Homo sapiens: one gene and its partners. The protein of the gene in region 3 purifies or fractionates together with the protein of the main gene of each other region. This does not show direct contact. Each region holds a gene or a part of one and is shown on either strand. Other genes may lie near its edges.

The links.
Region 1: the proteins of EIF2AK1 (region 3) and CCDC127 purify together in Homo sapiens (co-immunoprecipitation; one large-scale study listed by IntAct). This does not show direct contact.
Region 2: the proteins of EIF2AK1 (region 3) and POLD1 purify together in Homo sapiens (affinity purification with mass spectrometry, with the first as the bait; one large-scale study listed by BioGRID). This does not show direct contact.

The regions. Positions count from the first base shown.
Region 1 is NC_000005.10:211,606-215,253, reverse strand, and holds part of CCDC127 (coiled-coil domain-containing protein 127), read left to right. Parts: intron 1-3,648.
Region 2 is NC_000019.10:50,404,701-50,408,348, forward strand, and holds part of POLD1 (DNA polymerase delta catalytic subunit), read left to right. Parts: intron 1-1,481; coding exon 1,482-1,622; intron 1,623-1,706; coding exon 1,707-1,817; intron 1,818-2,282; coding exon 2,283-2,474; intron 2,475-2,626; coding exon 2,627-2,715; intron 2,716-3,648. UniProt on the Homo sapiens protein: As the catalytic component of the trimeric (Pol-delta3 complex) and tetrameric DNA polymerase delta complexes (Pol-delta4 complex), plays a crucial role in high fidelity genome replication, including in lagging strand synthesis, and repair.
Region 3 is NC_000007.14:6,024,951-6,028,312, reverse strand, and holds part of EIF2AK1 (eukaryotic translation initiation factor 2-alpha kinase 1), read left to right. Parts: intron 1-1,351; coding exon 1,352-1,585; intron 1,586-3,362. UniProt on the Homo sapiens protein: Metabolic-stress sensing protein kinase that phosphorylates the alpha subunit of eukaryotic translation initiation factor 2 (EIF2S1/eIF-2-alpha) in response to various stress conditions.

The DNA of each region.
Region 1 (3,648 bases), on a different chromosome or scaffold from region 3:
GGTCAGAGAGAACTGTTAAGTTGGTGTTCTTGTAAGGATTCTCCAAAGGTGTGTTACGATGTGTTTGAGGTTCTGTTGCACATAGGAGCGTTAACCAGCCCCTAGTGTAGTCTAGAAGAAGAGGCAGACATATGAATACTTGATAAGCGCTATTGGTTGATTTATTGATGAGAGGCTAGTTTTGTCCTGATCACTCGCTTCATTTACTAGAATTTTTTTTTTTTTTCGAGACGGAGTCTTGCCCTGTCGCCAGGCTGGAGTGCAGTGGCGCGATCTCGGCTTGCTGCAACCTCTGACTCCCTGGTTCTAGTGATTCTCCTGCCTCAGCCTCCCGAGTAGCTGGGATTACAGGCGCCCCTCACCACGTCCAGCTAATTTTTGTATTTTTAGTAGAGACGGGGTTTCACCACATTGGCCAGGATGGTCTCGATCTCCTGACCTCATGATCTGCCCGCCTCGGCCTCCCAAAGTGCTGGGGTTACAGGTGTGAGCCACCGTGCCCAGCCCATTTACTAGATTTTTACTTAACATAACATAGAAATGTGTGTAATTGTGCTTGCCCGAAAGAGCAGTCCCTGGAGAAATTCTTACCCTGAGTAGCTCCCAGGGGAGAATATTCAGTATTTCAGCACTCCAGAGGGCTTCTCTCTCTTCACACCTCCTCTGTCATTCTGCTTCCCCCCTTTTCTCTCAGTCTTCTTGATTGCCCTTTCCCCATCTCTCTCTCCGTGCTTTTCCCATCTCTCCGTGCTTTCTCCCCTCTAGTGTTCCTGTACCTCCTGTTTCCTCCCCTGACCCAGAAAACATAGTTTTAGAGCTGAAAGGGACTGGTTGAGTTCACTGGGCCCAACTCAGTTTCTTTTAATTAAATATTTTATTTTGGGGTCATGTAAATCACATGCAGTTGTCATCAGTAATGCAGAGAGCCCGTGTACCCTCTACCCAGCTTTCCCCAGTGGAAGCATCTGCAAAACGATAGTGCAGTGTCACAGCCAAGACATCTGCCAGGATGCGGTCAAGATACCCCAATCCCTGGGGCCTCACGTGCTGCCCTGTGTACCGCCCCTCCCTCCATAGCCCCCGGCAGCTACTGATCTGTTCTTCATCTCCAGAACTTTGTCATTTCAAGAATGTTATGTAAATGGAATCAAACAGTATATAACCTTTCGGGTTGACTTTTTTCATTCAGCATAACCCCCTGAGGTCCATGCAGATTGTTGCTGTATCAGTAGTTCATAGATAGTTTCATTGCTGAGTCGTGTTTTATGACATGGACGTACCACAGTGTGTTTAACCACTGAAAGACATCTGGGTCCTTTCCAGTTTTCAGCTGTTATGAATAAAGCTCTTATAAACATTCTTGTGTAGGTTTTTGTGTCGATGTAAGTTTTCATTTCTCTCGGATAAAGGGCCAGAAGTGAAATTACTGGGTTTTATGGAGGTTGCACGTTTAGTTTTTTAAGAAGGGCTGAAATGTTTCCCGAGTTGCTGCACCGTTTTAGGTTCTCACCAGCAATGCAGAGCTGATCGGTTTCTCCACCTGGTCAGTATTTGGTGTTTCACTGCTGTCCCGTCTGCCCCATCCTGATGGGTGTGTGGTGCTGTCTCATCGTGGCTGCAGCGTGCAATGTCGAGCATCAGCGTGCTCACACTGCTGTCCCGTCTGCCCCATCCTGATGGGTGTGTGGTGCTGTCTCGTCGTGGCTGCAGTGTGCGATGTCGAGCATCAGCGTGCTCACACTGCTGTCCCGTCTGCCCCATCCTGATGGGTGTGTGGTGCTGTCTCGTCGTGGCTGCAGTGTGCGATGTCAAGCATCAGTGTGCTCACACTGCTGTCCAGTCTGCCCCATCATGATGGGTGTGTGGTGCTGTCTCGTCATGGCTGCAGTGTGCGATGTCGAGCATCAGCGTGCTCACACTGCTGTCCCGTCTGCCCCATCGTGATGGGTGTGTGGTGCTGTCTCGTCGTGGCTGCAGTGTGCGATGTCGAGCATCAGTGTGCTCACACTGCTGTCCCGTCTGCCCCATCCTGATGGGTGTGTGGTGCTGTCTCGTCGTGGCTGCAGTATTCGATGTCGAGCATCAGTGTGCTCACACTGCTGTCCCGTCTGCCCCATCGTGATGGGTGTGTGGTGCTGTCTCATCGTGGCTGCAGTGTGCGATGTCGAGCATCAGCGTGCTCACACTGCTGTCCCGTCTGCCCCATCCTGATGGGTGTGTGGTGCTGTCTCATCGTGGCTGCAGTGTGCGATGTCAAGCATCAGCGTGCTCACACTGCTGTCCCGTCTGCCCCATCCTGATGGGTGTGTGGTGCTGTCTCGTCGTGGCTGCAGTGTGCAATGTCGAGCATCTCAGCGTGCTCACATTGCTGTCCCGTCTGCCCCATCCTGATGGGTGTGTGGTGCTGTCTCATCGTGGCTGCAGTGTGCAATGTCGAGCATCTCAGCATGCTCACATTGCTGTCCCGTCTGCCCCATCCTGATGGGTGTGTGGTGCTGTCTCATCGTGGCTGCAGTGTGCGATGTCGAGCATCAGCGTGCTCACACTGCTGTCCCGTCTGCCCCATCCTGATGGGTGTGTGGTGCTGTCTCATCGTGGCTGCAGTGTGCGATGTCAAGCATCAGCGTGCTCACACTGCTGTCCCGTCTGCCCCATCCTGATGGGTGTGTGGTGCTGTCTCGTCGTGGCTGCAGTGTGCAATGTCGAGCATCTCAGCGTGCTCACATTGCTGTCCCGTCTGCCCCATCCTGATGGGTGTGTGGTGCTGTCTCATCGTGGCTGCAGTGTGCAATGTCGAGCATCTCAGCGTGCTCACATTGCTGTCCAGTCTGCCCCATCATGATGGGTGTGTGGTGCTGTCTCGTCATGGCTGCAGTGTGCGATGTCGAGCATCAGCGTGCTCACATTGCTGTCCCGTCTGCCCCATCGTGATGGGTGTGTGGTGCTGTCTCATCGTGGCTGCAGTATTCGATGTCGAGCATCAGCGTGCTCACACTGCTGTCCCGTCTGCCCCATCGTGATGGGTGTGTGGTGCTGTCTCATCGTGGCTGCAGTGTGTGATGTCGAGCATCAGCGTGCTCACACTGCTGTCCCGTCTGCCCCATCCTGATGGGTGTGTGGTGCTGTCTCATCGTGGCTGCAGTGTGCGATGTCGAGCATCAGCGTGCTCACATTGCTGTCCCGTCTGCCCCATCCTGATGGGTGTGTGGTGCTGTCTCGTCGTGGCTGCAGTGTGCGATGTCGAGCATCAGTGTGCTCACACTGCTGTCCCGTCTGCCCCATCCTGATGGGTGTGTGGTGCTGTCTCGTCGTGGCTGCAGTGTGCGATGTCGAGCATCAGTGTGCTCACACTGCTGTCCCGTCTGCCCCATCCTGATGGGTGTGTGGTGCTGTCTCGTCGTGGCTGCAGTGTGCGATGTCGAGCATCTCAGCGTGCTCACATTGCTGTCCCGTCTGCCCCATCCTGATGGGTGTGTGGTGCTGTCTCATCGTGGCTGCAGTGTGCGATGTCGAGCATCAGCGTGCTCACACTGCTGTCCCGTCTGCCCCATCCTGATGGGTGTGTGGTGCTGTCTCGTCGTGGCTGCAGTGTGCGATGTCGAGCATCAGTGTGCTCACACTGCTGTCCCGTCTGCCCCATCCTGATGG
Region 2 (3,648 bases), on a different chromosome or scaffold from region 3:
CCCAAGTAGCTGGGATTACAGGCGTGAGCCACCACGCCCCGCAAATTTTTGCTTTTTTGTTATTGTTTCTTGAGATGGAATTTCGCTCTTGTTGCCCAGGCTGGAGTGCAATGGCACGATCTTGGCTCACCACAACCTCCGCCTCCCAGGGGGCGCTGGGGTGTAGAAGTGATTCTCCTGCCTCAGCCTCCCAAGTAGCTGGGATTATAGGCACCCGCTTCCATGCCCGACTAATTTTGTATTTTTAGTAGACAGGGTTTCTCCATGTTGGCCAGGCTGGTCTCGAACTCCCAATCTCAGGTGATCTGCCCACTTCGGCCTCCCAAAGTGCTGGGATTACAGGCGTGAGCCACCGCGCCTGGCCTATTTTTGTTTTTGTTTTTGTTTTTTTTAGCAGAGACTAGGTTTCATCATGTTGGCCAGGCTGGTCTCCATCCTCACCTCAGGTGATCTGCCCACCTCAGCCTCTCAAAGTGCTGGGATTACAGGTGTGAGCCAGTGCACCTAGCCCACATGTCCTCTTTGTGTAGTGACACCGTCGTGAGGTGAGGGCCCACCCCAGTGACCTCATCTTCACTTGACCCCCTGCGAAGACATATTTCCAAATGAGGTTACATTCTGAGGTGCCGGGGGTTAGGGCTTCAACATCTTTTGGGAGAACATGGTTCAGCCCTTAATGAGATATATTGCCTTATTTTCCTGCTTTTCTCTATGTCTGGCCAGCTTGGTAATGGAAAAACAAAACAGGCTGGGTGTGGTGGCTCACGCCTCTAATCCCAGCACTTTGGGAGGATGAGGCGAGAGGATCGATGGAGCCCAGGAGTTCAAGACCAGCCAGGGCAACATAGCAAGACCCTGCCTCTATTAAAGAGAAAACAAGAAAAAATCCATTCTAAAATACAGAACAAACTCTTAGGACCCCCAGTGTATATTCCACAGCGTGGCGCTGATGCCCGGGCCATGGTACTCCTCCTCCCCTTCCCTGGGTGTCCCTCACCCTCTGCCCTGTCCCCAGCTCAGGCTTCTTCTGGCCTCAGTCTCCCCCAGGCTGGGCCCCAGCACCCTGCAAGGCCTCCTGCAGCCAGGCGCCCTCCAGCGCCCTCAGCATCCATCTCAGCCCAGCTCCACGCCGCCTCCTGCCTCTGCCCCCACCTGGCCGCCTGCTCACAGTGTCCCCAAATCTCTTCCTGTTTCCTGCCTAGGTACAGCCCGCAGACACTGGGCTCCATCCTTGGCCCCCAGTCCATCAGGGCCCCTGACTCTCGCTATCCCAGCCTTGGCTGCAGCTTAGTCCTTACTCCGGACTCCCTCCCCAGTCTCCAGCCACCCACACCCAGCCCCAGACCGTCTTTCTGCCCCCAGGGTTGCTCTCGACCCCCTAGGGTTGTTATAAGGATGTTGTGGTTGGTCTCAATCTCCGTTCTTCAGGCTTATGTGACGGGGACCCGCAGCCTGCTGCACACCCTGCCTCTCCTCCTCAGGTACAAACATTCCCTTTCCTGGGCCGTGTGGCCGGCCTTTGCTCCAACATCCGGGACTCTTCATTCCAGTCCAAGCAGACGGGCCGGCGGGACACCAAGGTTGTCAGCATGGTGGGCCGCGTGCAGATGGACATGCTGCAGGTATGGGCGGGAGGTGGGGTGTGTCCCTGTCCTTGGAAGGCCACTGCCCAGGCCCGCAGCCCACCAGCCCACCCACCCACCTAGGTGCTGCTGCGGGAGTACAAGCTCCGCTCCTACACGCTCAATGCCGTGAGCTTCCACTTCCTGGGCGAGCAGAAGGAGGACGTGCAGCACAGCATCATCACCGACCTGCAGGTGCCTGCTGCCTCCCTGACCTCTCACCCCAACCTCTGACCTCCACCTCACCCTTCCCCGGCCTCTGACCTCAACTTCACGCCCCCACGTCTGACCTCACTCTTTGACCTGCTGTTATGACCTGTGACCTTACCTGACGCCCACTTTTTCCTGACCTCTGACCCCAGATTTCTCTCCACTCCTGTGACCTCTGTCACTATGACCTTGTCTCTGCTTTCCTGGCCTGACCACAGGTCCACGGTGGCCTTCAGGCTGCTCCCTCCTCCTCCCTCTGGCCCTGTGGACTCCCTGGCCCCCAACCCTACCTCCATCCCCACCCAGACCCTGACGACTTGGAGGGCCCTCCTGCCCGCCTCACCTCCCAGGCCCTCCCCAGGCTACCTCACCCTGACCCCCACTTCCTTCTCCTGCTCCACCTCCCACCCCCAACCCCTGGTCCCTGACCCCATCCGTGCCCATCCCCAGAATGGGAACGACCAGACCCGCCGCCGCCTGGCTGTGTACTGCCTGAAGGATGCCTACCTGCCACTGCGGCTGCTGGAGCGGCTCATGGTGCTGGTGAACGCCGTGGAGATGGCGAGGGTCACTGGCGTGCCCCTCAGCTACCTGCTCAGTCGTGGCCAGCAGGTCAAGGTCGTATCCCAGCTGTTGCGGCAGGTCAGTAGCCGAGACTTGTCCTCGCCACCCCCCACCAGGCACGTCTGTGGCCCCCTCCAGGCAATGGCATCCTGGATGCACTTTTTCTCCCCACTCCCAATCCGCACGGCCCCACCTATACCCACTCCATTTCCCACCTTCTCCCCTCCCAGGCCATGCACGAGGGGCTGCTGATGCCCGTGGTGAAGTCAGAGGGCGGCGAGGACTACACGGGAGCCACTGTCATCGAGCCCCTCAAAGGGTGAGGCCCCAGGCTGGGTGCAGTTTTTACCTGTAATCTCTGGGAGGCTGAGGTGGGAGGATCACTTGAGCTCAGGAGTTTGAGACCAGCCAGGGCAACATAGCGAGGCCCCTGCTCCACAAAATTTTTTTATTTTTATTTATTTTTATTTTTATTTTTTTGAGACAGAGTCTCGCTCTGTCACCCAGGCTGGAGTGCAGTGGCGCAATCTCAGCTCACTGCAAGCTTTGCCTCCCGGGTTCACGCCATTCTCCTACCTCAGTCTCCACAGCAGCTGGGACTACAGGCGCCCACCACCACGCCTGGCTAATTTTTTTTTTTTTTTTTTTTTTTGCATTTTTAGTAGGGACGGGGTTTCACCGTGTTAGCCAGGATGGTCTCGATCTGACCTCGTGATCCACCTGCCTCGGCCTCCCAAAGTGCTGGGATTATAGGCGTGAGCCACCGTGCCCGGCCGAAAAAATTTTTAAAAATTAGCCAGGCGTGGTGGTGCATGCCTGTAATCCCAGCTACTTGGGAGGCTGAGCTGGGAGGATGATGAGCCCAGGAGGTGGAGGCTGCAGTGAGCGATGATTGCGCCACTGCCCTCCAGCCTGGGCGACAGAGCAACACCCCGGCCCTAAAATAAATTAATAGGCCAGGCACGGTGGCTCACCCCTGTAATCAATCCCAGCACTTTGGGAGGTCAAGGCAGGCGGATCACAAGTTCAGGAGATTGGGACCATCCTGGCTAACACGGTGAAACCCCGTCTCTACTAAAAATACAGAAATTAGCTGGGCATGGTGGCGGGCGCCTGCAGTGCCAGCTACTCGGGAGGCTGAGGCAGAAGAATCGCTTGAACCCGGGAGGTGGAGGTTGCAGTGAGCTGAGATTGCGCCACTGCACTCCAGCCTGGGTGACAAAGCGAGACTCCGTCTCAAAAAAAATAAAAT
Region 3 (3,362 bases):
ACCATTGCACTCCATCCTGGATGACAAGAGCAAAACTCCATCTCAAAAAAAAAAAAAACAAACAGTACAATGAAATGCAGAAGCTCTGTCATAGAGATGTTTTTGGAGATAACTGAGTACTGTAGATAATTAACTGGATCAAACTGTCCTAAGAAGAAACCTCACTTTTCAGTAGACTCTGTGTTGCCTACTTTACCATTTCAAAATCCACAGATGTCACAATTTTTTTGTTTGTTCATTTGTTGTTTTTGAGACAGGGTCTTGCTCTGTTGCCCAGGTTGGATTGCAGTGGTGTCATCATAGCTCATGGCAGCCTCCAACTCCTGGGCTCAAGTGATCCTCCCACCTCAGCCTCCCATGTAACTGTGACTTCAAGAGTTGTGCTACCACACCCAGCTAATAAAAAAAATTATTTGTAGAGATGGGTCTTGCTTTGTCCAGGTTGGTCTCAAACTCCTGGCCTCAAATGATTCTCCTCCCTTGGCCTCCCAAAGTGCTGGGATTAAGGCATGAACCTCTGCGCCTGGCCTAAATCGATTTTGAAATGAGCTTTCCCTTTAAAACATCACTGTTCACCTCAGGAAGCTAGAATTCATGGAAGCCTGTTTTCAGCCTTTCTTCTCATTGGTTTTTTTCAAGCTTTGGTAAATAAACACCAAGGGGAAGCCTGCCCCTTGACTCCCCTTGAAATAGAACGAACATGCTGTAAAGTTTGAATCTCCCTTGTTCCTGGAAGAAATGCTAAAATCCATTTTTCAAAACAACAGGCTAGTAAAATTTTCTTCCTTTTGATGGCGCATTGAGCTTTTTAGTGATTAGGAAAGAGCTGTCAGAAAAAATGATGGCTGCCCCTAAAATCTTGTTTAGTGAAGACCTTCCTAAAAAATCTGTTTTTAGGAGTAGTATCACAGATTTTATGCAGTTTGTTAAATGTCACCAAGGACACTTGGTAAGAATGAGTGGAGGCAGAGGTGAGACCGGAGGAGAACCCGCGACCTTCTGTGGCTCCCCCGCAGCTGACACTAGCAGGCGTGAGCTCACATCATTGCCTGGGTCAGGCCTGGATTGTTAAGGGGTGCTGAAGACAGTTGTATGGTCGTGACTGCTGTGGGTGGGGATTATCCCTGCCCTCCACCTGACCATCCATTCTGCGTGCCCACGGATGCCCCTTTTTGAGGTTGTGAAAGTCCCTGTCACTGATGAGCTATCCTGCTCTGTTCCCTTCCTTGTGGGTGACCGTATATCCTCATTCTTAGAAACCCTCTCCTGTTTGGAGGGTGGAACACGGAAATGGAAACGTTCTTCTAACTTTGTATTTCACTACTGAGTTCCCCTTTTTTTCTTTTTCCAGTCAGATATGTACAGCTTGGGTGTGGTCCTGCTAGAGCTCTTTCAGCCGTTTGGAACAGAAATGGAGCGAGCAGAAGTTCTAACAGGTTTAAGAACTGGTCAGTTGCCGGAATCCCTCCGTAAAAGGTGTCCAGTGCAAGCCAAGTATATCCAGCACTTAACGAGAAGGAACTCATCGCAGAGACCATCTGCCATTCAGCTGCTGCAGAGTGAACTTTTCCAAAATTCTGGAAATGTATGTGCTTTTCTTTCTCTTGGTCCTGGAGTGAAGGTGGTTTTTATTGCCTCTCTTGGGGAAGGAAGCGGTTGGGTGGTGCCCCCGGAGGCTGGGGCTGGAAGAGCCAGATGATGGTTCTGGAGGCGGGGCCTGTTTGTTCTCGTCCACTTCCTGGCACTCAGCTGCAGGGTGTGCTGGCAGGACTCACTCCCCTTGGGGTAGCAGCTGTGGCCTCAGCAGGCACAGGAGGTATCTGCTGGTGTTCACAAAGAGGAGCGGAGGGCTGGGGGCCAACCCCACAGCGAAGGCCGGTAGGAAACTTCCTGGGGCCTGGTGGGTGAGACTCCTTCCCGGAAAGGCCGGAGGGGCCCGCAGGGTTTGCACCTTCTCATGGCTAGGCCTTTAGATGTCCAGGTCAAACTCTGACCCTTCACCACCTGCCTGCTGTTCTGGGCTGTCTGTATGTCTGCCGGGGGCTCATCACTGGCAGGGCTGGTGACCCCGGAAGTGGTGGGCGGGTCCCTCGAGGGTGTTTTGGTCACTGGTGAGTTCAGCACTCTATTGGGAATTTCCAGTTGTACATGATCCTGGTACCTCCCCGGGTAGTGCTGAAGAGTGTGCCCGATGGGGTTGCTGCATTCCCTGCGCAGTACACAGTCATTGGACCACCGGGGAGAGGCAGGGGTGGCCTGGCGTGGGGGTCCGGCTGCAGCTGCTGCCCTGGACATGGTCTCTGTACATGTTTTTTTTTTAAATGCTGAGGAAAATATGAAGCTTAAAATAGAATTTGTTCAAATTGTGAATCCTGGCCAGGCGGGGTGGCTCATGCCTGTAATCCCAGGCATGGGATTTTGGGAGGCAGAGGTGGGAGGATTGCCTGATGTTAGGAGTTCAAGACCAGCCCGGCCAACATGGTGAAACCCCATCTACTAAAAGTACAAAAATTAGCCGGGCGTGGTGGTGCACACCTGTAATCCCACCTCCTTGGGAGGCTGAGGCAGGACAGTCACTTGAACTGGGAGGCGGAGGTTGCAGTGAGCTGAGATCACACCACTGTACTCCAGCCTCGGCGAAAGAGCGAGACTCCGTCTCAATATAAATAGTGAACCCTGTTTCAGTGAATAGTCGAGCTTAGACTCATATTTGTGCAAACAAAATATTTAAACCCATTCTCAGAGTTCCCTGACTGTATCAAGCACTAGGTTGAATACCAGTAGCATGCTTATATTCATTGTCCACGTAAGCAGGTTGACTCCCCACCGCCTGTCTACTCTAAGAGTTACAAGCATTGGGCGTGGTGGCTCACGCCTGTAATCCCAGCACTTTGGGAGGCTGAGGCAGGCGGATCATGAGGTCAGGAGTTCAAGACCAGCCTGACCAACATGGTAAAACCCCATCTCTACTAAAAATACAAAAATTAGCCGGTGTGAGCTACCATGCCCAGCCACAGATGTGGTTCTTGAAACCAAGTATAAACATTTATCTTCATATATGAAGGGGATTTTCTGATGCTCAGTTAAGATAGCTATTAGAGACCATAGTTATTTAGTATTTATGGTAAGGATTTCTACTATCTTGCAAAAGTTTTTTGTATAAAATGAAACCTTGGCTGGGTGTGGTGGCTCACACCTGTAATTCCAGCACTTTGGGAGGTCGAGGCGGGTGGGTCACTTGAGGTAAGGAGTTTGAGACCGGCCTGGCCAACATGGCGAAACCTCATCTCTACTAAAAATACAGAAACTAGCTGGGCTTGTATGAGAGCGCCTGTAATCCCAGCTACTTGGGTGGCTGAGGC